Regions from separate parts of the Homo sapiens genome. Here all the other regions are reported to be linked to region 7. The links are microRNA targets in miRTarBase. Many come from high-throughput screens and were not tested one by one. Region 7 holds a microRNA gene; each other region holds the end of a gene's coding sequence. Distances are from middle to middle.
What was found. Region 7 holds the annotated microRNA hsa-miR-3941 (UUACACACAACUGAGGAUCAUA, at 1,319-1,340, shown strand). A microRNA usually pairs through its seed, bases 2 to 8, with sites in the 3' UTR of a target mRNA and lowers its output. Matches are read on the target gene's strand: a 7mer-m8 pairs with bases 2 to 8, a 7mer-A1 pairs with bases 2 to 7 and ends in A, and an 8mer does both.

Region 1: the mRNA of DCP2 is a reported target of hsa-miR-3941. Seed matches in the 3' UTR shown: 7mer-A1 at 1,389-1,395, 8mer at 1,833-1,840 and 7mer-m8 at 2,120-2,126.
Region 2: miRTarBase lists KLHL42 as a target of hsa-miR-3941. Seed matches in the 3' UTR shown: 7mer-m8 at 1,458-1,464.
Region 3: the mRNA of ATG10 is a reported target of hsa-miR-3941. Seed matches in the 3' UTR shown: 7mer-m8 at 1,853-1,859.
Region 4: miRTarBase lists KIF13A as a target of hsa-miR-3941. The part of its 3' UTR that is shown has no 7-base or 8-base seed match.
Region 5: miRTarBase lists TUBD1 as a target of hsa-miR-3941. The part of its 3' UTR that is shown has no 7-base or 8-base seed match.
Region 6: the mRNA of FGFBP3 is a reported target of hsa-miR-3941. Seed matches in the 3' UTR shown: 7mer-m8 at 2,123-2,129 and 7mer-m8 at 1,768-1,774.

The regions. Positions count from the first base shown.
Region 1 is chr5:113,012,934-113,016,999 of GRCh38, forward strand. It overlaps DCP2 (decapping mRNA 2), which reads left to right. Exons shown (of 11, transcript NM_152624.6): 11 at 388-4,066. The coding sequence ends at 551. Among named protein-coding and RNA genes, the nearest start is that of DCP2, 38 kb to the left of the region's middle.
Region 2 is chr12:27,797,764-27,801,831 of GRCh38, reverse strand. It overlaps KLHL42 (kelch like family member 42), which reads right to left. Exons shown (of 3, transcript NM_020782.2): 3 at 1-4,068. The coding sequence ends at 3,666. Among named protein-coding and RNA genes, the nearest start is that of MANSC4, 20 kb to the right of the region's middle.
Region 3 is chr5:82,253,064-82,257,131 of GRCh38, forward strand. ATG10 (autophagy related 10) reads left to right here. Exons shown (of 8, transcript NM_031482.5): 7 at 251-366; 8 at 1,005-3,070. The coding sequence ends at 362. Among named protein-coding and RNA genes, the nearest start is that of RPS23, 23 kb to the right of the region's middle.
Region 4 is chr6:17,760,759-17,764,826 of GRCh38, reverse strand. It overlaps KIF13A (kinesin family member 13A), which reads left to right. Exons shown (of 39, transcript NM_022113.6): 39 at 1-1,134. The coding sequence ends at 717. Among named protein-coding and RNA genes, the nearest start is that of NUP153-AS1, 56 kb to the right of the region's middle.
Region 5 is chr17:59,857,030-59,861,097 of GRCh38, forward strand. It overlaps TUBD1 (tubulin delta 1), which reads right to left. Exons shown (of 9, transcript NM_016261.4): 9 at 2,450-3,395. The coding sequence ends at 3,293. Among named protein-coding and RNA genes, the nearest start is that of MIR21, 18 kb to the left of the region's middle.
Region 6 is chr10:91,904,821-91,908,888 of GRCh38, forward strand. It overlaps FGFBP3 (fibroblast growth factor binding protein 3), which reads right to left. Exons shown (of 2, transcript NM_152429.5): 2 at 1,764-4,068. The coding sequence ends at 3,373. FGFBP3-AS1 (FGFBP3 antisense RNA 1) reads left to right here and starts at 3,309. Exons shown (of 2, transcript NR_199602.1): 1 at 3,309-3,429. RefSeq lists a silencer at 3,539-4,068 and an enhancer at 4,012-4,068.
Region 7 is chr10:122,415,706-122,419,773 of GRCh38, forward strand. It overlaps MIR3941 (microRNA 3941), which reads left to right and starts at 1,260; the gene lies at 1,260-1,362. PLEKHA1 (pleckstrin homology domain containing A1) reads left to right here. Exons shown (of 12, transcript NM_001001974.4): 7 at 154-297; 8 at 2,195-2,263.

The DNA.
Region 1 (4,066 bases), not on the chromosome of region 7:
GCCTGGCCAGATTTTTCTTTATGGTGATAAATTCCTGGAAATCTTGGTAAACCCCAGCTTTATTTTTCTGTAACAGAATGCACATAAAATAGGTAAAGCACATACAGGAGGTAAAGTTACGCTCATTTTGAAAGCAAAGGAATGTCAAGGGTCTTAATGGCTGAGATTAAGATTTTGAATATGTGGAAATAATAATAGATTGAAAATGCAGTTGACCACCAGTTTATGGAAAGGAAAATACATATTTTGGTGGTTCTGTTTAGGGTTAGAGTCTGGGAAGATAAATATATACTCAAAACTAATTGTTTTGTAACAAAAGGCAAAGGGCAGTATTTGATTTCTTACTAAGGTTACTGAGCTTATTTATTTTGTTTTTTCTTTAAACAGATGCTGTATATGACTTGCCTAGCTCCAGTGAAGACCAGTTGCTAGAACATGCTGAGGGACAGCCCGTGGCATGTAATGGACATTGCAAGTTCCCCTTTTCATCCAGAGCCTTTTTGAGTTTCAAGTTTGACCATAATGCTATAATGAAAATCTTGGACCTTTGATAGCAGCACATGTATTGTAAATGTCCCAGGATCAGAGACCTGTTGAATTTGAGTGGGTGTCTCCTCAAGCCTTACCTTTCTCAGGTGTTTTAAAGAAATGCAGGGAGGCAATGTTTCTGAAGACATTTTCTGTTTATAAGAGAGTAGAAAGAAACACGAGTTTGCACTGTAAATGCAGTTATAACCTTTTATACAGATTTACCTTTTCAGTGTTCAGTACAAGTTTAAGTTGCTTTCTTTGAGGGCATTTATTCTGTGTGACTGTGGGTTTTATTTTGTATTCTGGTTAAGAAAATAATGTATTGAGTTACTGTCAAGTAGCCAAGTTAATGGGAATGCTCCATCTACCTGTTACAGTGATTGCAATAATAGTATATTGGAGTTTTTCAAAGAAACTTAAAGTAATGCCCAATTATTAAATGAACACAAGAGCTGAGATGTCACATTCGTCAGCATTACAGGTGATCTATTTTGGTGGCATTTTGTACTTCTCTCTGCTTCTAACCACTGAGGCTCTCTAATCTTCCTCTGGAGTTTTAGTGAAAGGATTTATTGAGCAGCTTCTGGAATATAATGTGCATGTCCAAAATGAACTCAGCGCTTCAAAAGGACAAAGTCTGTAGCCTGGAGGGGCTTGAGTGGATGGGAGCTGATGCTGTGATTTTGAGCTGTGGTTACATGCAGTCAGTAAACCTGTGAGACTGCTGGAGGAAATGTAGCAGACAGCATGGAGGCTGGGACCCAGCAGCTACTTTGGGTCATGTCTTTACTGTCCTGCCTCCAACCCTTTAGTCTCGTAGACTTTTGTTCTTGTGGAAATTTCTTCTGTATTCCAGTTGTGTAAATATGTATGGAAAACTGATATTACTAGGTTTTACGTTGCATCTCCAGTATTGATCTTTGGAAACTGATGTTACATTAGGTTCCAATTCGCAATAGTAGCAGAGACTGACATGCTTTTATTGACCTGCTAAGCCCCTGGATGATGGAGCGAGAAGGGAAGGGGTATGCAGTTTACCCAAGTCCAAATAAAGCATTTCACTAGGTTACACGTTATGTATATGTGTTACATAACAGTAACATACATAACTCACTCCTAGGAATGTATTTTGCTTCAGGATTTTTAAATTCAAATAAGGATGGCAGTGCCCATTTTAAGGAGGATTTCAGCTATAACTGAGGACAATCACCAGGGCGTTAAGGGGGCTTTAGTGTTTTGGCTGCATCTGACCTCATTGAAGGAATTTCTTGGGAGTCGGGGGTGTTTGAGTATATGTGTGTGTGTGTAACTATCATGTGGGTTTTAAAAATCCTTTTTTACAGTGGTATCCACAAAATACTTCTCTGCTTATAAATGTTATTGTAGAAATCTTTATTCTGTGTAGGTAGCCTATTTAATTGGGTTCCACTGAACCTCATGGGACTTTTAAAAGAAGGGCTATTTAAGGAATTCACTTGGTAGTACTTTGCTTTAGCTTTTAAATGGCTTGATTTTAAAGGAGAAATTCTATTTATTAATGAAAGTGTCACCCTTTTGGTGCTAAGCAGGAGAATTCACAATTAAAGCAGTGTGTATAGAATTATGATATTCAGAATCCTGCATCTTTTAATGTGACAAATTTTTGAATCCTGTGACTTTTGCTTTTTAATGCATTATATGATTGTGTTTGGAAGCTTTTACTGTTCTTTTCAGAAATACGGCTGCTTTGCTTGGGTCTCTTCGAGCCATATTTATAGTTGGTCCCAGCATTCCAGACTTCTGGTAAATTGTTAAAGGAGTGAAAATGTAGTTTGCCTGGCAGATGAATAATTTTCACTCATTTATTGTCTTCTGGAAACCATTTAACTTTTACTGTTTTTTATTTTTTTGGTATGTGTTTTTTTTTTTCTTTTTAAGTGCATACTTTGGCCAGTCTTCCTGGTGCCTGTAGAGTTGGATTTTTCAGCTCTCAATACTGAAGCAAAAGAGATTATAGTTACCAGAAGTATGGCCTCTAATGGTGTTGAGCCTTTTCAAGAACCAACAAATTATCTTTGTGATTACAGTAGTTTAACTATGGTTAAATGTTACTGCTGTTGCGCTGCTTTATTTAATGCACTGTGGAACAAAATATAAGGGTACTGTTGGGGTGTGATTATGATAACTTCAGGCTTTTAGCTCTCCTCAAAGTTTGAGGTTAAAAAAATGTTAAAAGATGTGAGTTAAAGTTTATGTGTGTGATGTGACTTAACTATGCAGAAAATATTTAAGTTGGATGTACTTGTTTTAGGTACATCTACTATACTTATTCTCTCAAACCTGGGTAATAGTTTCTCAGTGTTCAGGTTACCTTGAGAAAGGCCATGCTTAGCGAACTGGATTTCTCCTTTGAGAAATTTTAGTATGGTTTGAGGAAATCAAGTGATAAAGGAGTATGCTGAATATGCAATCATTTACTTCTACTGAGTGCTGCATTTTAAGATGCTAGATGAGAAGAGTAGTTGGTTTTGCTTCATTATGTTTTATGTCTTTGAGAGAGATACAGGTCTTGGAATTCACTTTTTAAATGTTACGTTCCAACCTTATATGTTCCAAGGTGCAGTGCACTGTGAATCTTTTATTTTTAAAAAAATTTGTAGGTGCTTTTATGTATAACTTTAATGATTTATAAGATGCTAAATGAATTGTTTTTGTACCTAACCATTGTAATCCAAAAGATAAGGGTGTGGTTTACATGCTTTTCAAAAATTTTTGTTAAGAAGTAGCAAATGAATGGTTTAGGATTTCAAATAGTGATACCCTCCTGAGACATGAGCATTTGGAGAGGCCTGAGAACCTAATAGAACTCATATAGTGTGAGTGAAATTTGATTAAAGATGTTGGAAAATGAAGTTGGATTTTTGTATTCATGTATAAAGGAAAGTCTCCCAGTGCTGTCAAAGGAATTGTGGTTACTACTTGCTGTTCTGAGCTTTGAATATCGTTATTTTTCTATTAAATATCAATTAGTAAGTATAGCTAATGAAGACATATAATGAAAGTAATTTTATGCTGTAAGATTGAATTGGTACTTTTCCTTATTAAGGCTTTAGTAATTTGTATGTAATGTCAAATAAAAGGAATTCAAATCTGAGTAAATAACAGCCTCCTACTATAGGAATTAGATTCTTCTATAAAAGTCACCATATTGTATCCTATAGAAAAGTTAAGGTCTGAGTGCATGTGTGCATTAAAAACATTTCACTACCTATTCTCTCATGGACTTCTCATCCTTTCTTTTTTCATCTCCAACAGTTAAATGGTAAGGAGAGCAAAGTTAATTATAAAAATTAGACATTTTGCCAAGTTAGTTTTCTTACCACAATACCCTCTTGGCTTTTTTTTTTTTTTTTTTGAGATGGAGTTTCACTCCTGTTGCCCAGGCTGGAGTGCAATGGTGCAATTTCGGCTCACCGCAACCTACGCCTCCCGGGTTCAAGTGATTCTCCTGCCTCAGCCTCCCAAGTAGCTGGGATTACAGGCATGCGCCACCACG
Region 2 (4,068 bases), not on the chromosome of region 7:
TGGTAACCACAGAACTGGAGCTCAATCAGCTCACTGCTTTCAAAGTCATTTTGGTTGGTGTCTACCCACTTAATTCTTTCACTCCTCTGTCTAAGGCAGGGATGGCAAATAGCCTTCATTTCACTCTGATGGACTGGGAATAGATGTCTGGAAGCACCAATCTGACATGGATTCTAAGACCAAATCCTGGCACAGAGGACAGGAATGCTGCACTCATTCATAATGCCTCCTTAAAAGAGCGGTGGCACAGGTGTTATATATTCCCCATTCCTGGTCTAGGAAAAAGGCATCCAACACCTACTTATATTCCTTTTACATTGCTATGCTGCCTCTTGAGTGATCTGCATTAAGCCACTGTTCGTTAAATGCTGGTTGATCAGGAAGACCAAGGCCTTTCCTCTCAATTTACGTCTTTGGCCAAACAGGTAGGGTCAGAACTTCACCTGGAAATCTGAAAACACATCATCCACAATGCTCAATAGGCAACAGTCCATTGAAAGAGAACAGGTATTTACTTGATTACTCCCTTTGTAGAGAAAGAATTTTGCCCATCTCAATGGTGTGTAGCTTTCATTGATATCTAAGGCATTTGGAATTACTTAGGATCTTGGTGTTAAAAAAAAAAAAATGGCAGGGTTAAATTCTCTTTGGTTCTCATTCTAATCTTAAGACTTCTGTTTGTTTCTTCCTGGTACCCATAACCTTCTCAGCACTTCGTCGTTGTGACTTAACCAATACTGTTGAAATAATCAACTCTTTCACACATTCATCAGAAAACCTTTTAAAGGATGCTAAGGGGAGAGGCCTCTGAAAATAAGTGGGTTGAAAGGAAAGCCAGAGAGAATAACAGGAAGAACCAACCTTCTAACAACCCACACACAGGACTCTCTACCATTCAGACTGCTATCTATAAAATAGGGTGCTTCTGGTCGGGGGGCTGCCACCCCAGGTCCTCCAAGCAACCCTTTTCCCCATAGTGGGAGGTCAGCATCCCTCAGAAGCATCTCAGGAAAAAATGATAAAGCATTTAGAGAATTGGGAAGAAAATAGAGGGATACTATCAAAGAGTAAAGGACAGTCCTGGGGGATGAAGGGGGATTTTCTTTTTTCTTTTTTTTTTTTTGGAGACAGAGTCTTGCACTGTCGCCCAGGCTGGAGTGCAATGGCACAATCTCGGCTCACTGCAACCTCCGCCTGAAGGGAGATTTTCAAAGCAACATTGCCTCTATCATAGGTAGTCTTCAATGTAATACTGGCACCAACAAGAGAACCGAGCTAAATTAAAACTACCCTCAAAATGTCATCACAGCTGATGTGCACAGCAGGAAGGACGATGTCACAAAATGCACAGATCTGTTCCTATTGCACATTCCACCTTTCCCACGTACTGCTGGCAGCCCAGAATAACCAAAATCTTTTTAGATGTCTGTCTTAAAGAGAGCTATAATATGCAAACATACACACACACACACACACACACCCCCACACACACACACAACCTCAAACCTGGTTTATAAAAGAGCTTTGTGGATCAGAGTACACCCTCACTTGGTCCAAGAATCTAATTGTCAACATTAGGCAAATAGACCCAATGAATGTAACCAGGAAGAGAATTAACTGGTTGGCTGGAATATTGTATTTGATATGATATGCTTATTTGCAAACTAATCTCCAACTGTTTGTCCAGTACTAATTCAACTGACTCATCTTCTAAATGTATAGGACAAAGCCTTTAAAAAGTTAAGCTCTTCAGCAACGAAAAGTTAACACCATCTAAAATAAATAGATTTTAAAATATATGTAATGAAATTACAGGTCACTGGAAATTCAATTCTACAATGAATATAAATTAACATTAAAATCTATTAAGTACTATTCCTGGGAAGATTTTGGTTCAGAGGTTTTATTTTTTTAAGGGCTTAATATTTGGGAATAAATGGGCATAGCTTAGAAACCCTTACAAAGTTGTAAGTAGACTAGAGGTAAGATTATTTGGTGACAAGATACAAAGATCTGTTTCTATGTCCAAAATAATGGCTTACCTCATTTTAGTTAATAGAAGTATTCCCAAAAAGTTGTGCAAATAGGCTTTTTATAACTGGACGCTTATTTTAAGTATACTAGAGGCCATGGTTGTAAAGAAAACCTGTAGTCACTCCTCTAATAAACTGAAGAACTCTAAGTGATTAGCCCCTGTCCTACATCTGCACAGTGGACGGCATACTCCAGGCACTCATAAGTGTTTGTTGAATGCATGAATTCGCTCTGACAGTTTTTTTTTTCCCCTACAGGACTTTCTTAAAGTGAGGCACATGCTAACTGAAATGGTTCTGCCCGCTGTTACTGCAGAAAGATGGAATCCAGCTCACAGTTTAACTGATGCCATTACAAAATATCAGATAATTTCAGAGTGTTTTCAATCAAAATAAAATTTCCATAAGTATGAGTGTATGTATTTTTGAGGAATGTTGATCTATGATTGGCAGAAGCTTTTATTGTTAACTCACTCACTGAAAACAACTGCTTGAGCTGAATTCTATTTCAATTAACAACCAAGGCAAGTAAAGCACTTTACCTAACTTCAGAAATACCACCAGAAACCATTCCACTTCTGTAACAGCTTCTTCCCCTCACTCCAGCACAAATATTTAAATGCTGTCCTTACCTTAGTCCACAAAAGCAAAACATGAATTACAAAGCTAAGATTAAATTAGAAAGCTGCCGACTTAAATATGACAAAGTTTTTTTAGCCTTAAAATAAGAACTAAGTCAAATACATTCAACAAAAGTAACTCTTAAAGGCAAATTTTTTTCTTATTTGGTGTTTTCTTCCCTTCCCATTTAAATTTAAGACTCAATTTTTAATAATATTCATATGTCCATTTTTCTAAATAATATATCCTCTTTAAAACAATACAGAATGCCTAGCAGTGCAACCTATGTGTCCACATAAATATGCAACCTGCCACATAAATAAAATAAGAGGTTTTATCAGTCTATTTATCCAGCATTTGTAACTGCAAAAAAGGCTGGAAAAATAGCTAAGAATATTTTTATGCAAGTTTTGGGGAGGACTGAACACTGGTAAGGATTCACTGTAGGGCTCCATCATTATAAGTTTCCTAAAAAGTAGTGTGCAAACAAAATATCTGAACACAGAACCCTAAACATACTAGATGTATGTGTGGGTATGGGTGATGGAGAAGAGAGAATGAATATGTTAATATGAATGCTTGTCAAGGACACTGATAAGAAAAAGAAAACCTCTCACTTAAGGTGCTAATGATATGTCAAGGGACCTAAATACAACAGATTTTAAAATCATCTTTACCATTTGTCCCAATTATTGACTTTGGCCCTTTACCACACAGACACAATGAATCTACATTTTGATGATCCGTCATTGGCCCAAGAGTATCATGTTTGGAGATGGATTTGCTCCCATAATTTAAAAATCAATAATTTAAAAAATAACAAAGTTGGTCTCTTTTTTCCACCAGTTTTCAAGTAATTAGTTCAAGTAAGCTTATTTACAGCTGCTACTGTATATATGTGACCTACTTTAACCCTTCTTTACCCTTTAGGAATTGGTCTCCCTTGGAATGGGACACCACATTTTAAAAAAAACTTGAACCAGGTTTTTTTCATCTACCAATTCAATTCAGTCATGTTTCTGCTTTATTGGGCAGATAAAGAGAAGAAACCAGCAAGTTATGTCCAAAAGCTGGAAAACGCCGAAATGCTTCCCAACTATCTGAAAAGATGTTGTACTTGAGGAACACTCGGTGTTCCAAGCTGGTCGACAGGGTGACGTCTCTGCTCATGATGTAGATGCCGTCGTTATGGAGCGCACAAGTCAAGTTAAGACCCGATTTGGACGTGTTCTCCTTGAGGTAGAGCCACTGGCGGGTGACGGTGTTGTAGGACTGCACGGTGAGCATGTCCTCGCTCTGGCTGCTCCTGCGGTTGGGCCCCAGCTCGTGGAGACACCCCCCCACGATGTAGATGGTCTCTTCCACAGACACCATCTGCTGCTTGCGAATGTGGACGTCACATGTTTCAAAGAGC
Region 3 (4,068 bases), not on the chromosome of region 7:
AAGTCAGGAGCCAGTACCTTACCTCATTCTTCAACTACCCTAATGAGGGATCCTTACAGGCTCTCTGGACCTTAAATTCTTGTCAAGCAATGGGGCTGGCATTCAGAAATGCTGAGATTCCAGGTGGTAGGTACAAATCTTTGAAGAAAGCCTCACTTTTGTTATTGTTGGTGACCAACTGATGTTCTACCATTCATCCAAAAACTACAATGGAAACGTTAGCATGGCCTGTATTTCACTTGTTTCCTAGGAATGTCAACTATATCACATCATGGCTGAGCATTGTAGGGCCAGTTGTTGGGCTGAATCTACCTCTGAGTTATGCCAAAGCAACGTCTCAGGATGAACGAAATGTCCCTTAACAAGGTAAAAGAAAAGCCTGGATTTAATGTTTTGCCGTTACAAAGATCAATGTCTCCATTGCATTTAGACTCATCCCACCAAATGCAAAATTTGCTTTCATCTTTAGTGGGCAAACCCTGACTTAATTTTTAGTTTTCCAATCAGTCCCCTACCAAGTTATTTAGGACAGGGATCCCCAAATCCCAGGCCATGGACCGGAACCAGGCCTCACAGCAGGAGGTGAGCGGCAGCTGGGTGGGCAAGCAAGCGAGCATTACCACCTGAGCTCTTCCTCCTATCAGATCAGCTGCAGCATTGGATCTGCATAGGAATGTGAACCCTATTGTGAACTGCGCATCTGAGGGACCTAGGTTGCGCGCTCCTTATGAGATTCTAACCAATGCCTGATGATCTGAGGTGGAACAGTTTCATCCTGAAACCATCTCCCATTCGGTCTGTGAAAATGGTTTTCCCTGAAACTGGTGCCTGGTGCCAAAAAGGTTGGGGGCCACCAATTCAGGAAATATTTTACTTTGCTGTAAGTAGCATGCACTCAGTGACAGGAATGGATAGTTTTATTTTAGTACTGATATTCTTAAATAAGTCTTTACTGCTCAGTTATTTTTCTTTTATTCTCTTGGCTTTTGTTTTATGTTCTTCAGATTCTTCTATTGAGTTTAGGAATTGCGGCACGAAGAATGCCAAGAGTTTACCTGGCCAGCCCTGGCTTTAATAGGACTGATACCATGGAATATTTCATCTCACCAAGATGTGACATGGATTATTTTTCCCTTGGACACAAATGTCTACAGCAACTGGTGTTTGATAGGCTGAATGTTTAGAAGAAACACTTCAAAGGGATACATCATGGCCAGGCATGGTGGCTCACACCTGTAATCCAAGCACTTTGGGAGGCCAAGGTGGGAGCATCACTTGATCCTGGGAGTTCGAGACCAGCCTGGGCAACATGGTGAAACCCTGTCGGTACAAAAAAATACAAAAATTTGCCTGTTTATGGTGGTGTGTTCCTGTAGTCCCAGCTCCCCAGGAGGCTGAGGTGGGAGGTTGGCTTTAACCCAGGAGGCAGAGGTTGCAGTGAGCTGAGACTGTGCCACTGCAGTCCAGCCTGGGTGACAGAGCCAGACACTGTCTCGGGGAAAAAAAAAAAAAAAAAAAGACACATCACTATAAATAGCAAAAAAACAAATCTAACTTATTAATACTAGGAATACCAACATTATTAGGGCACTTGCAGGTTATTCTTTTCTAGGCCAAGTACTTCACTTCCATTTGTCTGACATGGAGATTGAGGGAGAAATGTATTTGTGTGTTCATTTTAATGTAAGATATATAAAAATTAAATTACTGGATTTACCTGTCCCTGAAACTGGTGTTATAAACATGACCTATCTTAAGTGATTTTCCCACAATCAAACTCAGGAACAATAGATTATTTCTGTTTTACTCCAAAAGAGAGAGAGAGAGTGAGTGTGAGTGTGTGTGTGTGTGTGTGTGTATGTGTGGGTGTTTGTGTAGATAGTTGTAAAACAAAGAAAAAACACAATATTTTACTGTGAGATAATATGTTTTACCAGCAAAGTGTGGCATAGTAATTAGAAGTTTTCTAAAAAGCTATAGGAGATATTTAAACATTAAAATTTCTTTTTGACCTATAGTAATAAAACAATGGTCATTTTACCCCTCTGCTTCTCAACCCCACAGCTGCTCTGCTGTACTCTTTGAGGGCTCTTGAGCGAGTCTTCATGTCCCTGAGACTTATTTTCCTCATCTTTAATTTGAAACTAACAAGCTACCTCATAGGGTTGCTGTGAGAACCACATGAGATCATTAATGCATGATAAGATATTGTAAAGTATTATACGAATATTCATTAAATGCTCACCTTTCTTGTATATAATTGGTATTCACTAAGGCTGTAAATAAGTTTCATAGCCAGTTAAGTATTAAGATAAACCTAACCTGGAACAATTTTTTTTTTGGTTGCTTGTTTTGTTTTTTGCTTTCATTTGCTAGGAGCTGAAACGAAGATTAAAATGTCATTGGCTTTTTAGAGAGTCTAGATTAGTGTGTCTTTGAATGAGGGATATACTTAAAATCACCTGAGGATCGTTTACAGCTACAGATGCTGGGGCCACCTGACACAGTCTCTCTGGGGGTGATTCTGCTCTGGAGAACCTCTGGTCTGGATATACCTTTATTGTGACATTGATTTGTATTGTTTTGCTCTACTGACAGGCCTTTTCCAATCCATACAAGCTGAACTTGCTTCCTAATGTTTGTCTAGGCCTTACATGGATAGTAAGGAAGCTTAGGAGACATGTACACAAGGCAGCCCACTTGTAGGAAACTGCTTCAGGTGAGGACATCATTCACCAGTGGATCACCGAGCACCGTGACAGCACCCTCAGTCCACGTCTGCAGATTAAGAGCTGAACTCTCACAGAGAAAGTGGAAGTAGAGAAAGGGTTAATTCAAACTGCTAGAAAAGCTAAAAGTAAATTTTAAAATGCTGAGCTGCCCATATTCATGCTAGGATGAGAGCCGGCTTAAATGCTTGCTGGGCATTTTGGTATTTACCACTTAGCATGTTTTCAACTTCTGTGAGGGATTTTCCCCCCAATCTCCCTAATGTAAACACAGATTTCTCAGCAAGTCATTTCTCAAGCCATGTCATTTCTAGTGTAAAATAAATTATAATAATGTGTCATCTGAATGGTGTTCTTGTCTGCAAACATTAGTTATCCTTTGCTAACAGATTCTGAGATGAGAGTCTATCAGTTTGGAGCCAATGTTTAGTTTTTTTTAAAAAAAGTTAAAAATACAACTTTTTCTCTGATCAACAAAGACCTAAAAATTCATCAGTGGCAGAAAAAAGTTCCAAGGAGCTCCTGTAGACTGGGGAGGCCTTTCTTCCCAGATAGATCCATCTCCTCAAGCAGCTTGATTTCTTTCTAGAATTTTTTTCACTTAAAAAACTTCTAATTTTTGGTTGATAACAATTTCCATTTTTATAAATGCAGTTATGCTAACAGAATGTTATCCTGACAGTTATTAAACATTAGAAGATATTTGGTTTTGTTGAAGTAACTGTTCTTTCTCGGCAATATGAGGATTTTTTCTCCCTGCTTCCTCAAATAATGTACAACATCTATCAGAAATAAGGCTGGGTAAAGTCGCTTCCAGCTCACCTCCTAAATTCTGCTTCTGTGTGACCTTGGAAAAATTTCTTCACCTCTGTGGTCCTCAGTTTCTTTATTTGTAAAATAGGGAAATTCAGCTATGTGTCTTTTGCGACAACCGTGAATTTTTAGGTCTGTGAAATAGAAGTCCAGAGATCTAAACTGTGAGGCTGGTTAACTGCTAGCTGTGTGACTTGGGCCAATTTTCTTATTTCCTTCTTAAACTATTTCTGAAAAATAAAGCCCACAGTATCTATGCTGCTTACCTGACAAGGGCATAGAGAAGATCAAAATGATACATAAAACTGAATGTGCTTTAACCAAGGCAGTGAGACATGGAGTGAGGGGTGACAGTGGATAATGACCTGCTCCTTCAGCGACACTAGCATCCCTACTCCTCTCCACCTCATTGTATGTCTGAGCCCTCCCCAGTGCCAAGCGCTCTCTGATCTGGGGAGTCTTTTCCTTCACACCCTTAGCTGACTGTTGCTTATGCTGGTGCCCACCTGGAAGTGCTTCCTTCCCC
Region 4 (4,068 bases), not on the chromosome of region 7:
GAATGGTTTTCCTCTAAAGTAGATCTGTCAAACTCACGGGTCTTGGAGAAAGAAGTGTCCCGTAGCCCTACCACCAGCAGTATTACCAGTGGCTACTTTTCCCACAGTGCCTCCAATGCCACCCTGTCTGACATGGTGGTCCCTTCTAGTGACAGCTCAGACCAGCTGGCCATTCAGACGAAGGATGCAGACTCCACCGAGCACTCCACACCATCGCTTGTGCATGATTTCAGGCCGTCCTCAAACAAAGAGTTGACAGAAGTCGAAAAAGGCTTGGTAAAGGACAAGATAATTGTGGTGCCACTCAAGGAAAACAGTGCCTTAGCCAAAGGGAGCCCATCATCCCAGAGCATCCCTGAGAAAAACTCCAAATCACTGTGCAGGACTGGCTCATGTTCAGAACTAGATGCCTGCCCCAGCAAAATTAGCCAGCCAGCCAGGGGATTCTGCCCCAGGGAGGTGACGGTAGAACACACCACCAACATCCTTGAAGACCATTCTTTCACAGAATTTATGGGAGTGTCAGAGGGAAAAGATTTTGATGGTTTGACAGATTCTTCTGCTGGAGAGCTTTCCAGTAGGAGGAGTCTACCAAATAAAACAGGCGGCAAGACTGTCTCCGATGGGCTCCACCACCCCAGCCAGCTGCATTCCAAGTTAGAGAATGACCAGGTAATAATTCCAGAGGCAGCCTTTTGGGTTCTGTGCTGTCAATGAGTATGTCTAACTGTATGTCAACCCCAGAGGCCCTTCACCGCAACAACTTGGTAGGAAAGATTCATCCAGTTGTTTGTGACAGCAAAGATGAGCCCACAGAGAAGCAGGCTCACTTCCTGCACAGCTGTCTCTGTCGGAGAGCAAGTCTGTTTTGGGAACTAGAACGCAATTGTGAAATTATAAGACCAGTGGATTTTTTTACCTGGCACATGGGTTGGTGTTGAATGAAGTGTTCAGATGGATAAGGATCAATCTCATATTCATTCCCTGGGATGTTTAGTTACCAGTTTTCCCAAAGTGTTCTGGTAGCATCTACCATATTTCATCAAATCTGTGATTCCTTTGATTATTATATGAACCATTATTTTATGTATCATTAAGAAAAAATACTGCCAATTAAACTCTGTCATATCAACAGTTGTAAGACACCCCAATTTCAGAGATGGTAAAGTGTGGAGAGAAAAACATATATATCATAGAATTGGAAATAGACAGTCGTTTGGTGCCCGTAGGTGAAAAAGTGCTTTGGGGCGGTATAGGCAAATTCCAGCAGCAGTTGAAGTTTGGACTTTGGAAGTAACTCAGTTTATAATACTGGTTAATTTTCTTTTTTCTTTTTTTTTTTTTTTTTTTTGAGATGGAGTGTGGCTCTCACTCTGTCACCCAGGCTGCAGTGCAGTGACACGATCTTGGCTCATTGCAGCCTCCACCTCCCTGGCTCACGTGATCCTCCTGCCTCAGCCTCCCGTGTAGCTGGGACTACAGGCACGTGCCAGCACATCTGGCTAATTTTTTTATATTTTCACCATGTTGGCCAGGCTGGTCTCAAACTTCTGACCTCAGGTGATCCATCCCCCTTGGCCTCCCAAAGTGTTGGGATTATAGGCATGAGCCACTGTGCCTGACTAATATTGGTTAATTTTCATACGGGAACAAAATGAGTTTTTGCCACTATTACTAAGGAAAATCACAAATTACATAAATAAGAGATGTTCTGCTTCTGAGCATTCTGCTCTGAAGTACCACCATTTATTCCCATTCACATTCATTTGTTTGGTCCCCCAACTTGCTGTAAAAGGCATGGGAGAGTCATGGCTTAGCAAAATAAAGAACTGACAGAGCTAGAAAGAGGCTTGGTAAAAGTAAAATAATCATGCTGCTACTCTATCCCTTTGTTTTGCGAGCAAGTTACTCCATTGATGTGGCTTTTGCCCCTGCTTTTCATAACAGCCCTTAAAATTTCAATGTATGGTCATTTATACAGCATACTCATTACTGAACTGCCAAAACCTAAACAGTCATCTCTGACAAGAAAAAGACTTCCTTCCCCGACATAAGAATAATGATAGAGTCACTCACCACCATTCTTGCAAGCAATACATGCATTTGTTTAGGTCTTCAACTTTCTTTACCTGGATTAAAGCAGAAGCTACACAGCTGGTATACATCAGCTTTTCAACCCTTGTTCGTCAAGAAGGCCAGTGTCAAAGACTCTTTAATTCTTTACTGTAAGATTAGGTTTGCTTCTCAAACCTAAAGGTGCTACAAACTCTAGGGGCAAGGAGGGTGTGGCAGGCCTCTTAAAAATTCATATTCATGGCCGAGTATGGTGGCTCATGCCTGTAATCCCAGCATTTTGGAAGGCCGAGGCAGGTGGATTGCCAGATGTCAGGAGTTCGAGACCAGCCTGGCTAAATGGTGAAACCCCATCTCTACTAAAAATACAAAAATTAGCCGGATATGGTGGCACATGCTTGTAGTCCCAGCTACTCGGGAGGCTGAGGCAGGAGAATCACCTGAACCCAGGAGGCGGAGGTTGCAGTGAGCCAAGATCGCACCACTGCACTCCAGCCTGGGCAACAGAGCAAGACTCCGTCTCAAAAAAAAAAAAAAAAATTCAAATTCACCTGGGCTTAGTGGCTTGCACCTGTAGTTCCAGCTATTCTGGAGGCTGAGGCGGGAAGATCACTTGAGCCCAAGAGCTCAAGACCAGTCTGGACAACAGAGCAAGATCCTATCTCTGTTTAAATAATTTTAAAAATTAAAATTTTTAAAAAATTCAAATTCCCAGGAGTCACTGCCATCCAGCCCTAAGATTTTGCTTTATACAGTGTGCAGCAGGGGAAATAAGGTATTCACAAACCCTTCCTTCCTCCCCATCCCCTCGCATCCCCATAGAGTAATAGGAGACAGGTTATCTGAGGGCCATACTGTGGGAAGCACTGCCCATAGAAGAGGGAAGAGGAGCAACAACCCCCTTCTTTTTTCATTGCCTAGATTATTTAGAACCCAACAGGAAAAGGTAAGGATTGGAAAGTTTCCAGAATAGTACGTTCCTCCCAAAGATCATGGTTTAAAGTGAAATTTACAAACATGTTATATCAAGATGATGGGATTATGGAGATTTTTCTCCTTTAAAGAGTTTTTAGCGGAGCGCAGTGGCTCACACCTGTAATCCCAACACTTTGGGAGGCTGAGGCGGGCGGATCACCTGAGGTCACAAGTTTGAGACCAGCCTGACCAACATGGAGAAACCCTGTCTCTACTGAAAACACAAAATTAGCCGGCAGTGGTGGCACATGACTATAATCCCAGCTACTCGGGAGGCTGAGGCAGGAGAATCGCTGGAACCCGGGAGGTGAAAGTTGCAGTGAGCTGAGATTGTGCCATTGCATTCCAGCCTGGGCAACAGGAGCTAAACTCTTGTCTCAAAAAAAAAAAATTTTGGCGGCCAGGCATAGTGGCTCACGCCCGTAGTCCTAGCACTTTGGGGAGACCAGAGCAGGAAGATCGCATGAACCCAGGAGTTTGACACCATCGTGGGCAACATAACGAGACTCTGTCTCTACAAAAATTTAAATGTTTTTTTATTTAATGTATCTGCTACATTGGTTTTAATAAGTTGTTTTGACAGTTTAAAATTTTTTCTGAGAACCATAAGTTTGACTTTGTTCAAACCCCTGAAATGACTTAGACTGCACATCCAGAAGTCACTTTTTTTCCTTAATTTTTACTTTGGTTGTTGCTGTCATTACTTTTCCTTGAAACATCACCTCAGGGCTTTTACAATGTGGATTCCAGCACTGGATTCCATAATAAAACCAATCCTGTGGGTCCCTTCAGGAAGAGCCCCTTTCTTGTGATGGGTGTGGACTGGGCTGAGAGTAGGTGCTGTGGGTGGGGTGGGGAGGTGGGGATGAGAAGCATGAACTCACCAGCCTCTGCATTCCAGGGAGGCACAACCTCACGGTGAGAGCAGCAAGCACCCCTCCTCAGGCCACAGCTTGGCGTCTTTGTTCGCCTGGTCACCTTGGGCAAGCACCAGCCCCATCTCTAAAACATGCTGCCGCC
Region 5 (4,068 bases), not on the chromosome of region 7:
ACACAGGCAAGATAACAAGCAATAATTAGGAAGCTAGAATTGTAGCACTAAACATCCCAAAAAGCTTCTTCAGACAAGGTAGCATTGATCCCTGTATCCTTAACATCTTCCTCAGTGCCTGGCACTGAATAGATGATACTGGTTGAATGGATGAATTGGCTGATAATAGTGAATTGTTGGCATACTTAGTGAGTTCTAAGTGATGGGTAAAATATAGGAGAAAGATGTTGAAAGATGTTGTAGATTGAATAGTAAGGGTGGATAGGGGAGGGGAGTTTTCGGGGAGATCCCAGGGCTGGAAGTGGCGAATGCATGGGAAAAAACAGGTTCTACAGCTTAAGCTCTTGAGGAAAGATTGGGGAGGTAAGAGAGAAAGAGCTTGACAATAAGAAACAGTATGCATTCACACTGTGCTCATTGTCCACAGGGGTGCATTCTGGCTCTGCAGGATAATGTTTGACAACGTAATGTGCCAGTTATCCCATAATCTAAGAAATTACACTTTCAAAGTTTTCTGGATCTGTATGCCCAGGAGCTAAGGGAGCCAATGTTGTCCTCCTGGCTGACTGGCCATTATCTCCACACAAATCAAAGCACATTTCCAATGCCACTCCATCTGAAGTTTTGACATCAGCATCTTGGTGTTAATTTTTAACTTAAAATCACAACTTTAAGAGCAAAAATTTTGTTATTCCAAGTAGACAAGAAAAAATTATTTTCCATGTGAATGTTTTAACCCAAGCTTTAAAATATTTAGGCATTGGCCAGGTATGGTGGCTCACGCCTGTAATCTCAGCACTTTGGGAGGCCGAGGCAGGTAGATAGCCTGAGCCCAGGAGTTTGAAACCAGCCCAGGCAACATGAGGAAACTTCGTCTCTACCAAAAATACAAAAATTAGCTGGGCATGGTGGTGCACACCTATAGTCCCAGTTATTAGTGAGTCTAAGGTGGGAGGATTGCTTGAGCCTGGGAGGTTGAGGCTGCAGTGAGCTGAGATCATGCTACTGCACTCTAGCCTGGGTGACAGAGCGAGACGCTGTCTCAAAAAAAAAAAAAATACATACACACACACACACACACATATATATGTAATAGGTAACCATACATATCAAATAATGCAGTTGTGGATCATAAAAAAGGGTCAAATAGCATAAGTAAATGGACCCAGAGCTCTGTCTAGTTGGGATTTGCTTCTAATGTTCACCTGCTAATGATTCCACGAGTTGCCAAATTAGAAATATACTTGCCCCTATTGGTACCTCATGAATTTTCTCAAATATCAAATGATTTCAACTTACGACTTTCTTTCAAGTTAACTTCTAGTAAGGTTCCTCAGAATCAGATTAACCCCTGGTGAGATACTCAGTTACAGATCTTCATGAATGCTGGTTTAGTCTGGGAAATTGTTTCAGTCTGTGGATCTCTTCAATGCTTAAACAATTACTTTAACTTGTTTGGTAAAAATTATGATCTAATTATTTTTCAAGTGTACTTGGCTTAACGAAATGCAGCAGCGGGGTGTGCCTTTTAGCAGCAGAACCGACCACTTTTTACATTCCTTACAAATAAGATATGGTTCAGTATTTTAAATCATAGCAACAGTTGATAAGAAAAACAGCAAAAAGGTAATCATTTCCATATGGAAAGAAAAAGAAGAACCAGTGAAGCTGTGAACTGTCATTTTTCCATATAAAAGTCACTATTGGTAGATTTGGCAGAAAGGGCAAATGTTCCTATTTGTTAATCATTTTACATTTGTTAATATATTGCATGTGATGTGTTTTATGGAAATACAACATTCCCTTCAAACTCAGTTGTCAATTTCCAAGCACGTTTTGTCTTGGGTGAAACCCGTATCTTGTGCGTCAATTTCATCAAGTAACTATATTTCCTTGGTGATAATTTTCTCAACTTAGTGAAAAATTTAGGTGAAAATTCTTACCCCTTTTACTGAAAAGCATATAACCATCATCTGTACCAGCTGAATACCTATAAGTAATTTCATTCTTTTTTTTTTTTTTTGGAGACAGTCTTACTCTGTCACCCGGGCTGGAATGCAGAGGCACGATACCAGTTCACTGCAGCCTCGACCTCCCAGGCTCAAGTGATCCTCCCACCCAAACCTCCAAAGTAGCTCAGACCACAAGTGTATGCCACCACACCCAGCTAATTAAAATTTTTTTTTTTTTTTGGAGAGATGGGGGTCTTACTGTATTTCTCAGGCTGGTCTCAAACTCCTGGCCTCAAGTGATCCTCCCACTTTGCCCTCCCAAAGTGTTGGGATTACAGGTGTGAGCCACCATGCCCAGCCCATTATAAGTAATTTTAAAGCAATAATTGAATAAAATCAATATCTGCTCTGGCATTCCAAGATCCAAAACAAAATTTGAGCCAATTTTCTCATGCCCAAAAAGTTTAAGAAAAGCACACTAAGTACACATTTACCTATTTACTTTTGTACTTAAGCATAAGCATTTATTACCAAAATCCTCATATTTATTTTTAAATAGCTGCTTAGAGTGGAAACTTGCCCTGTTACAGAATATTCAAAATACATGTTCACACTGTAGCATTTGACAACATCTCCCTCCTGTGGTTCAAAGCATTCATTTCAAACATGAATATATTAAGTACAGAATTACAATTCCTTAGCTTGAAATTATGCTGTGAAAGTTTGGTTCATGCTTTGTGAGTTGTTTTTGGAGTTGTTTTGGAGTAAAGATTTAGGAACATGTAGACAAAGAGAATATTCTCTTTTCTTGGCTAGTTCCAGAGTCCCAACATTTCAGCAAAGTGTTTCCCCAAAGTTCTTTATAAAAGCACCATTTTTTTTTCTTACAAATGAAATACCAAGTGAATGTTTTCATTGAAAACATGCGATTCTCCATTTTAAAAAGTTTTCTTCCTTTTCTGTGGGCATAGTATGCAGAATAGACTCAGCATTCTACGTGGTTACTTTAACAGAATGGAACTTTGAAAACATTTTTTTTTTTTTTTTTTTTTGAGACGGAGTCTCGCTCTGTCGCCCAGGCTGGAGTGCAGTGGCGCGATCTCGGCTCACTGCAAGCTCCGCCTCCTGGGTTCACGTCATTCTCCTGCCTCAGCCTCCCGAGTAGCTGGGACTACAGGCACCCGCCACCGCGCCTGGCTAATTTTTTGTATTTTCTGGTAGAGACGGTGTTTCACCGTGTTAGCCAGGATGGAGAACTTTGAAAACTTTACAGAGAAAATAGTATTGAAAATATTTTAGTCCAGAAATGCCTTAAGGTATACTTTTCCCATTGTTCAAGATCAGAGATTACAGTAACTGGCAACAACCTGCTCTAATGACGTGAAACTGTCTAAAAAGTCCTCTTCTTCGATTCCAAATTTTGTGTACTGATGAATGTAGGCTCTGGTAGAAAAAAAAAAAAAACAGAAATTACAAAATAAAAAATGTCTGGCAAATGAGTAACTCTTAAACAATAAACAGACCTTTTCTAGCTGATGAACATTTGAAGATCACACAATCGTTCAGAAGTCTTACATTTGCTTTGTTTACTCCAAAGATTAGTGAACTTTCTTTTTTTTTTTTGAGACAGAGTCTTGCTCTGTCACCTAGGCTGGAGTGCAGTGGCATGATCTCGGCTCACTGCAACCTCCACCTCCCAGGTTCAAGCGATTCGACTACCTCAGCCTCCCGAGTAGCTGGGATTACAGGAACGTGCCACCACACCCAGCTAATTTTTGTATTTTTAGTAGAGACGGGGTTTCACCATAATGGCCAGGCTGCTCTGGAACTCCCAACCTTAGGTGATCCACCCGCCTCGGCCTCCCAAAGTGCTGGGATTACAGGTGTGAGCCACCACGCCCAGCCTGAACTTTCAAAATTTATGTCAAGCTCCCTGTTTTTTCAGTGTCCAAAAAACTGGCAAAGGAGAGGCACCCGGGAAAGAGCAGCATGTTCAGATTTGGCTATCTACTCAGTATATATATATATACATATATAACACCCTATATTCAGTATAAACTCTGAAAAGTGCCTGAAAAGTTTCATATAAGCCTTGAAACTAGAAAACACATCAGTC
Region 6 (4,068 bases), 31 Mb from region 7:
CATACTTTGTATTATTTAAATTATTTTAAATATGTTGCAATTCATTTTATGGTCCAGAATATGGCCTATATTGGTGAATGTCCCGTGCATATTTGAAAATGTGTAGTCTGCTGTTCTGCTGTTATAGGATACAGTATTCCAGAAAGGTCAATTAGGTCAAGTTTGTTGATAGTATTGTTCAGGTCTTTTATATTCTTACCGATTTTCTATCTTCTTTTTCTATTTATTACTGAAAGAGAAACGTTGAAGTCTCCACATAAAATAGCGAATTTATCTATTCCTCCTTTCGATTCTATTGGTTTTTGCTTCATGTATTTTGTTGCACTGTTAGGTACACTCACATTTAGGATTGTTGTCTTTTTTGTGAGTTGATCCTTCTCTCGTTATATAATGTCCCTCTTTATCCTTTTCCTTTGTTTTGGAGTTTACGTTGTTGGATGTAGCCACTTGTGGTAAGCAGAATAATGCTCCCACTTCCCCCCCGCCGCCCCCACTTCTCCCACCCCTGCCCCGTGTTGACATCTTAATCCCCAGAACCTGTGAATATATTGGGATAAATTGCATTAGATTTCAATGGGAAATTAAGGTTACAGATAGAATTAAGTCGGCTAACCAACTGATCTTGAGATTGAAAAATTATCCTGGATTATTTGAATGGGCCCCGTGTATTTGTAAGCGTCTTTTTAAGTAAAAAAAAGAGCGAGGCAAGAAAGAGGGAGTCAGAGAAGGAGATGTGATGATAAAAGCAGAGGTTGGAGCCGGGCGCGGTGGCTGACGCCTGTAATCCCAGCACTTTGGGAGGCCAAGGCGGGCGGATCACGAGGTCAGGAGATCGAGACCATCCTGGCTAACATGGTGAAACCTTGTCTCTACTAAAAAAAAAAAAAATACAAAAAATTAGCCGGGCGTGGTGGCGGGTGCCTGTAGTCCCAGCTACTCGGGAGGCTGAAACAGGAGAATGGCATGAACCCGGGAGGTGGAGCTTGCAGTGAGCCGAGATCGCGCCACTGTACTCCAGCCTGGGCGACTGAGCAAAACTCCGTCTCAAAAAAAAAAAAAAAAAAACAGAGGTTGGAATGAGATGATAGTTGGCTTCGAAGATGGAAGAAAACCAAGGGCCAAGGAATGTGGACAGCTCTAGAAGCTGGAAAGGGCAAGGAAATTGATTCTTCCCTAGAGCCTCCATTGTTCATTTCTACTCAGGTTGGCCTGACTCCCTGCTGCTTCTAGCTTGACCTTTTCTGGGACTCTTGTTTTGGCCTTGAACCTTGTCCTGTTGAATAGCAAGATTGGAACTTACCCAGGGTTTTCTTTCAATCAGCAGAATGTGGAAAACTAAGATACATCTTTCAGATGATAGTGTACCCACCATGCTTACAAGCAATTCACAGGCCCTGCGCATAATCAAAGAAAGGGGAATACACAGAGGTGAGAATACCAGGAGGTAGGGATCATGTAAGTAACTATATTATATACTTATAGTCTGCCACCATATGTAACTTGTAGAGTTGAGAATAATAAAGTAATGATTTACTCTTATTTGAAGAATTAGAATTTAACTGATTATGAACAAATTTTGTGTTGAGATCATAGGTGTTTAGGGTGCAAGGACTATGAAGTTGTTGTTTTAATATAGTATGCAATGGTATGCTTCAAATGGAGGACCAAAATATTCAGAATAAAGCGATCTCACCTTGTTAAGGGAATGACCATGAGGATTTAACTTCAAGTTCCCAAATAAGTGGTTGCAACACACACACACATATATACACACACACACATTTATATATATAATGGAAAAACATATATATAGTTGCCCCTCCACATCCGTGGGCTCTGCATCCACAGATTCAACAATGGATGGGAGGAAGGTGGGGAGGAAGGGAAAAAGAAAGAGAACCAGGGTGCAAATCAAATAGAACAATGATAAGGCCAGGTGGCTGCCAGTTTGTGACTCTTGCTTTATGTCAACTTCTTAGTTTCTGTCTTTTCCCAGCAATTCAAGATGTGTTTAAGAACTTAATTCAAGGTGTACTTGGAAGTAGATCAAATGCAGGTAGAATTTCCATTGCCTTGCCACTTCTTTAAATCTAACCATACAGTTTTTATTGAGCACCTAACATACACACACAGTCTCTCATTACATCACACTAAAAATGAAATATATTAATAATTAGTTACATGAAACAGAGAGATACAACTTCCATAATGGTCAAAATGACTCTGAGATACATACTTACATTTTAGCTGTTTAAAAAAAAAAATCAGATATAAAGAGAATCACTGTTTACTGGAGCACTCAACATCTATAATTCCTTCTAAATGCAGAAGGTTAATGGGAAAGTTCCAGAACATTAGTCACCATTTCGTTAAAAAGTAGCACTTCTAGTGGCACACCCCTGTAGTCCTGGCTACTCCGGAGGCTGAGGCAGAGGATCACTTGAGACTGGAATGTCGAGGCCGCAGTGAGCCATAATTGCACCACTGCTCCAGTCTGGATGACACAAGACCCTGTCTCAAAAATAAAAATAAAGTAGCACTTCTAAGCCAAGTGCAGCTGTGCATGCTTGTAGTCCCAGCTACTCCTACTCCTAGCTATTCTGGAGGCTAAGATGTGAGGATCCCTTGAGGCCAGGAGTTGGAGACTGCAGTGCCTATTATTACACCTGTGACTAGCCACCGCACTCCAGCCTGGGCAAGCCAGACCCTGTCAGGGAAAAAAAAAAAAAAAGGTAGCTCTTCTAAAAGAATGGAAAGGAAATCATTCTGCAAAACTTTCCTTGGAGCCAGTTTTGACCTGTGAGGCTTCTGTCCCTATAGAGGTTATCTATGACACCCACCACGCCGCATCCAAGTTTATACCAATTCAGAAACGGAAAAAAAGTCTGCAGTCTTGTTAGCTGATTAAGTGAGAAGACATTGATTCAACCTGGCTCAGGTTGGCAATTGCTCATGGCTGCATTTAATAGAAATGTTAAACAATAAACATTGCATCCCCCTCCCCACATGGGACTCACATCACTTTAGTCACTCTATCTCCCCCTTATTCTCAGCCTCCCTCTGCATCGATTTCTCTCCCCAGTCTCCAGTTTTTGCACATTTAAAGTACGCCTATTTCTGTTTCCATTATTTTTCCTGCTCTTAATCAGGACTGAGACTTTTCAAAATTTTTAACTTCTCTGCTATCCCAGAGATTCTCCATACCCCTTACACTCTCATCCCAAGCATCTCACCCTTACCCTTGCCCCCACCCCCATTCGAGAACCTGGACTTCTCCCCAATCTCTATCACAGTACCCCCCGGTCTAAGACGCCCTTAGCTTTCCCTTCCCCACGCCTCCCCCATCAACCCTCCCTAAGCCGGCAGGCAGTCTCAGCCGTTCCAGAAATTGACAAAGAAGTTGCAGAGGGAGTGCCACTTCTCAGCGCAGTAGGTCTCCGTGAGCTCCGCGTTCCCGTCCAGCCCGTCGGGGTCGGGCCCGGTCCCCATGGGTCGCTCCTCGTTGGGGACCAAGGCCGCCTTCCTCTTGCCCTCGTTGGTCTTCCTCTCTGAGGGGTTTTCTTTGGGCGGTGCGCTTTGGGGAGGCGGGGTCCCAGCGGCTGGGCCGGACGCACGCTCCCGGGTCCGCCCCCGGTTCCGGGCCCGGGGCTTGGACTCCCCCGCGAATCCCGCGACGGTGGGGCGTGCGGGCGGGGACGCGCGGGGCACTAGCCGCAGCTCGGCGCCGTGGCCCTTCTTGCCCGCGCACAAGCGGGCCTGGAGCGGCGCGGGGTCGTGACAGGGCCTCCGCTTCTTGCGCAGCCCTCCCAGCACCTGCTTCCAGAAGTGCGCGCGGCGAGCGGCGTAGGCTGCGCAGCGCTCCGGATGCCCGCGGTAGGCGCACTGGTGGCGCGCCCCGTCCGGGCTCTGGCAGCGCAGCGCCAGCTCGCTGCCCGCTGCGGCCTCCGGGGCGGGCAGCAGGAGCTGCCAGCTGCACGCGTGCTGCTCGGGGCTGAGGAAGCGACCCGAGGAGCCGCCAGTGGGCCCGGGGACCGGCTCCGCCACGTTGCTAGCCGCCCCTTTCTCCCT
Region 7 (4,068 bases):
TAAGAGTAAGTATCTCAGATTAATTAGAAAACTCTTCAAAAATCTGTTTCTGACTAATCTAAGGTGGATTTTAAGATTTTCTACTGGGATAATATGAAATAAAAGTATGCTAAACAAGCAAGAAAATAATTTATTTATTTTGCTTCATTTTAGAAAGAAGAAGTAAATGAATGTGGTGAAAGTATTGACAGAAATAATCTGAAACGGTCACAAAGCCATCTTCCTTACTTTACTCCTAAACCACCTCAAGATAGTGCGGTTATCAAAGCTGGATATTGTGTAAAACAAGGAGCAGTGGTGAGTAGCTTAACAAAATACATGAAATAATGAAAAAGGATTACGTTCTAGCAAACTCAAATTAACATGGAAATTGTTTGCTTTATTTTATGAAAGACCCAAAGTGAGAGACCGGCATGCTGAGGAGAGTCAGGAGATAAAATAGGGGATATTCTCTGTTTATAATTCAATGCTGTTATTTGCTTGGTTTGCAGGGGGCCAGGAAAGTTAATGCCCATTACCACTGACTTTCAGTTTAAATGAGCTTTCCTAACAGTTTAATGTTTTAGAAAGTGTTTCTATTCATCTTTACTCATACTCAGGAGTGGGTCAGGGAAAGAGAGCTGTTGTGGGGAGATGGCAGGCCAGCGGCAGGAGAAGGAGTGGTGCCTAGGAGGTCTCTTCCTTGTTTAGGCATTGGCCTGACCTCCGTGGTAAGCTCTCTGACCTTGGGCTACTTACTTAACCTCTCAGGCCCTCAGTTTCTGTCTTAAGGAATATCATATAAAACCTACCATCTAGGGTTTTGTTTTGTTTTGTTTTTGTTTTTTAAGAGATGTAAATAAGAAAGGTGTGTTTCCCTTTGCACAGCACCTGGTACTTAGTAAAAGCTGTTATGGGTTAGCCCAGGTATTCCCATATAATCAGTTCCATGATGAATTTTTTGCAAGAGCAAGTAAATTTACCAATATTTCTAAGGTTGCAACATACCTTAGTATCTAAGCCATTCTTTCTATGTGAACTAAATCTTTAGAATTTCATGAGAAAATTAACTTTAAAGTTTGAAAATGTTTTTTAAGTCTGTGAGTAAAGAAATACTTAAAATTATTTTGGTGGTTCTGTTTGACTTCTCATCACTTTTTGGCAACTCTTAATTTTTTTAGGGCAGCCAGGGGAATGTCCTTTCACCTGTTTGACCTGCTTTAGGCTGAGGAAAATGATGGTGAGGGCAGGGGTTTCTTACTGTACAATGTCTGCAGGTAGAGTCAGAATTCTCATCAGGCTGTGATGCTCAGTTGTGTGTAGATTGAAAGCCCTAATTTTACACACAACTGAGGATCATAGCCTGATGGTTCCTTTTTGTTTTACTCTTAAGTCCAAAATACCAGTCAGAGATATTTAAGTGCTTCTGCAAAAACTGTTATTTTATTGACAAAAAATATTTGTACAAAATAGGTTTACTTTATTAAATATTTAGTGCTTTACTACTATGTATAAAGTACTTGTGGAAGAATTCATATGTTTTTACAGATGGAGAAACTTGATGTGGTTTAATAACATTTCCTGTGTTTGCTCTTTACATGGGGTTGGCGGGGGCGAGGAGTAGGAGGAAGGGGAAGTGCTTTTAAAAAAAAAAAAAGTTTCAACATTAAAAATATGAAATAGGCCAGGCATGGTGGCTCACGCCTGTAATCCCAGCATTTTGGGAGGCCAAGGTGGGCGGATCACCTGAGGTCAGGAGTTTGAGACCAGCCTGACTAACATGGTGAAACCCTGTCTCTACTAAAAATACAAAAATTAGCTGGGCATAGTGATGGGAGCCTGTAATCCCAGCTACTCGAGAGGCTGATGCAGGAGAATTGCTTGAACCCAGAAGGCAGAGGCAGTGAGCCGAGATCGCGCCATTGCACTCCAGCCTGGGTGACAGAGCAAGACTCTGTCTCAAAAAAAAAAAAAAAAAACACATAAAATCATACAATAAAAGATGAAAGCCAGGCACCAGAAATTGAATTAGGAATTCAAAGCCTGGGTAGCTAGAGAGGGATGAGGTTTAATTTATCGCATCTCTAAGGGAAGTAATGAGATTTTTCACTGCTTGGCATGTCTGATTGTGGGTTCATATCAGGGTAATTAAGTGGTGACTAACATTTGACATTCTTAGAAACACAAGTCTTATGTCTGTGTTCATCTCTGGTAGATGAAAAACTGGAAGAGAAGATATTTTCAATTGGATGAAAACACAATAGGCTACTTCAAATCTGAACTGGTATGTTGTTACGTCATAAATGTTGCTATAAGAATGTTTGAAAAGTGTTGCAATGTAGTGATTATATATAATTTCTTGTACTGTTCTGTAGTTTCAGAATAAGTCTAGTTTTTAGAGGTAAATATAGTTTATTTGGTTGTGATGCTTTTGGTTAATGATATTTTTCTTAAATACATTTTTAAGTAAAAAGATCCTATCTTCAAAGCAGCATTCCACCTTGAAAGATCTGAAGATCTCAGAATCCTCTAGTCTATAAATTTCCTCTAAAGGGGCTGTCCTCTTGGGGGGTTAGCCCCACGTGGAGTAGGGAGAGAAGGGCATCCACATGGGGAAGGGGTGGTGGCAGAGATGGGAGAATGGTCACATACACAGTGATTTATAAAATCAGGAACTATATTAAGTATAATAGAAGCCAAGTCTTTTCAGAGAAACAATACTTTTTGGTGAATGAATGTATATCTGTATATATGATGAGGAATGAGATATTTACATAGTTTCAAAGTACCTATCTACTAAAATAGGTATTAAGTATTGTACAAGGGGAAAAAGAGTAACATTACAGTGAGGAAAGTGGTGTAAAGAATTCTGTCTGTAAAAGTCAATATTTAACCCTCTGTATTTCTTTCTCTTGAGATTTTCTTTACCTATTTCACATTGACTCATAAATCACTTCACATAAGATGTTTTTATCTTCCCTGAAGGTAGAATCAGAAATTGAAATTCCCTCTTCGCCTTGTTTGAGTTGCATCCTTATTTAAAATATTGTAGGGTGATCTGAGTCCTGAAATAGCTTATTGGAGACATTGAATGCAATTCTGTAGTATAAATGTCTATCCTACGTCTTCTTTTTGTATGGGATCTTTGAGAAGGGAACTTATACTTTGTTTGAATGAAGTCACCAGAACAGCATTGTCCATTAGAACTTTCTGCACAAATGGAAATGTGCCGTATCTGTATTGTCCAAGGGCACTAGCTACATGTAGCTGTTGAGTGCTGGAAATGTGGCTAGTGTGACTGAGGAACTGACTTAATTTCATTTTAATTAATTTATATTTACATCATTACACACAATGGCCACTGTATTGGCCAGCAGAGCACTAGTGTATAGGAAGGGGATATTTTAAGATTCACCTCAGGAGTCAGCTCTTCTGGGAAGCTTTTAGACTCTGGGTTAAGTGTCTTCTCTTTATATGCCCTGTGGTACCCTATGCATACTTGTATCATAATGCTCTTCCCAGAGTTTTGCAATCACGTGCATTCTTGTCTTTGCAACTAAATTAAATGAGCTTCTTAAGGGTAAAGACTCTTGTAGTCTTTTATGATCACAGGGCCTGGCACTTGATAGACAATAAGTGTCTTTGAATGAATGAAAAATGGCATAGCATAGCAAGAAATGCCATTTTAGTATGGGGCTTTCTCAAAGCTTAAGAGCCTCAACTGGAAGTAGTAGTTACTTGGTTCAGAAAGTACCTGCCTTGTTGTCTCAGGAGGCTATCCTTGTGCTTGGTTAGCAGGTTGTCTCATAGATTTTATTTAAAGCCAATACTCCCGGGAAGAGTCATTCATGCAGCAGACATTCATTGAGCTCTCCATGAACCTGGTGCACTGTTCTGGGAACTGAAAATAAAAGAGAATAATTAGCAAAGTTCTCTGGCCTTCAGGAGTTCAGTTTTGGTGGGGAAATTGACGTGTGCCCCCATCATCAACAGTAGTTTTAATAATTAGGAATATTTTTAGTATTTAGAAATTGCAGATAAAGCTGAAAACCTTTAAAGGTCAGTAATTATAACTATACTTAAGTTTTC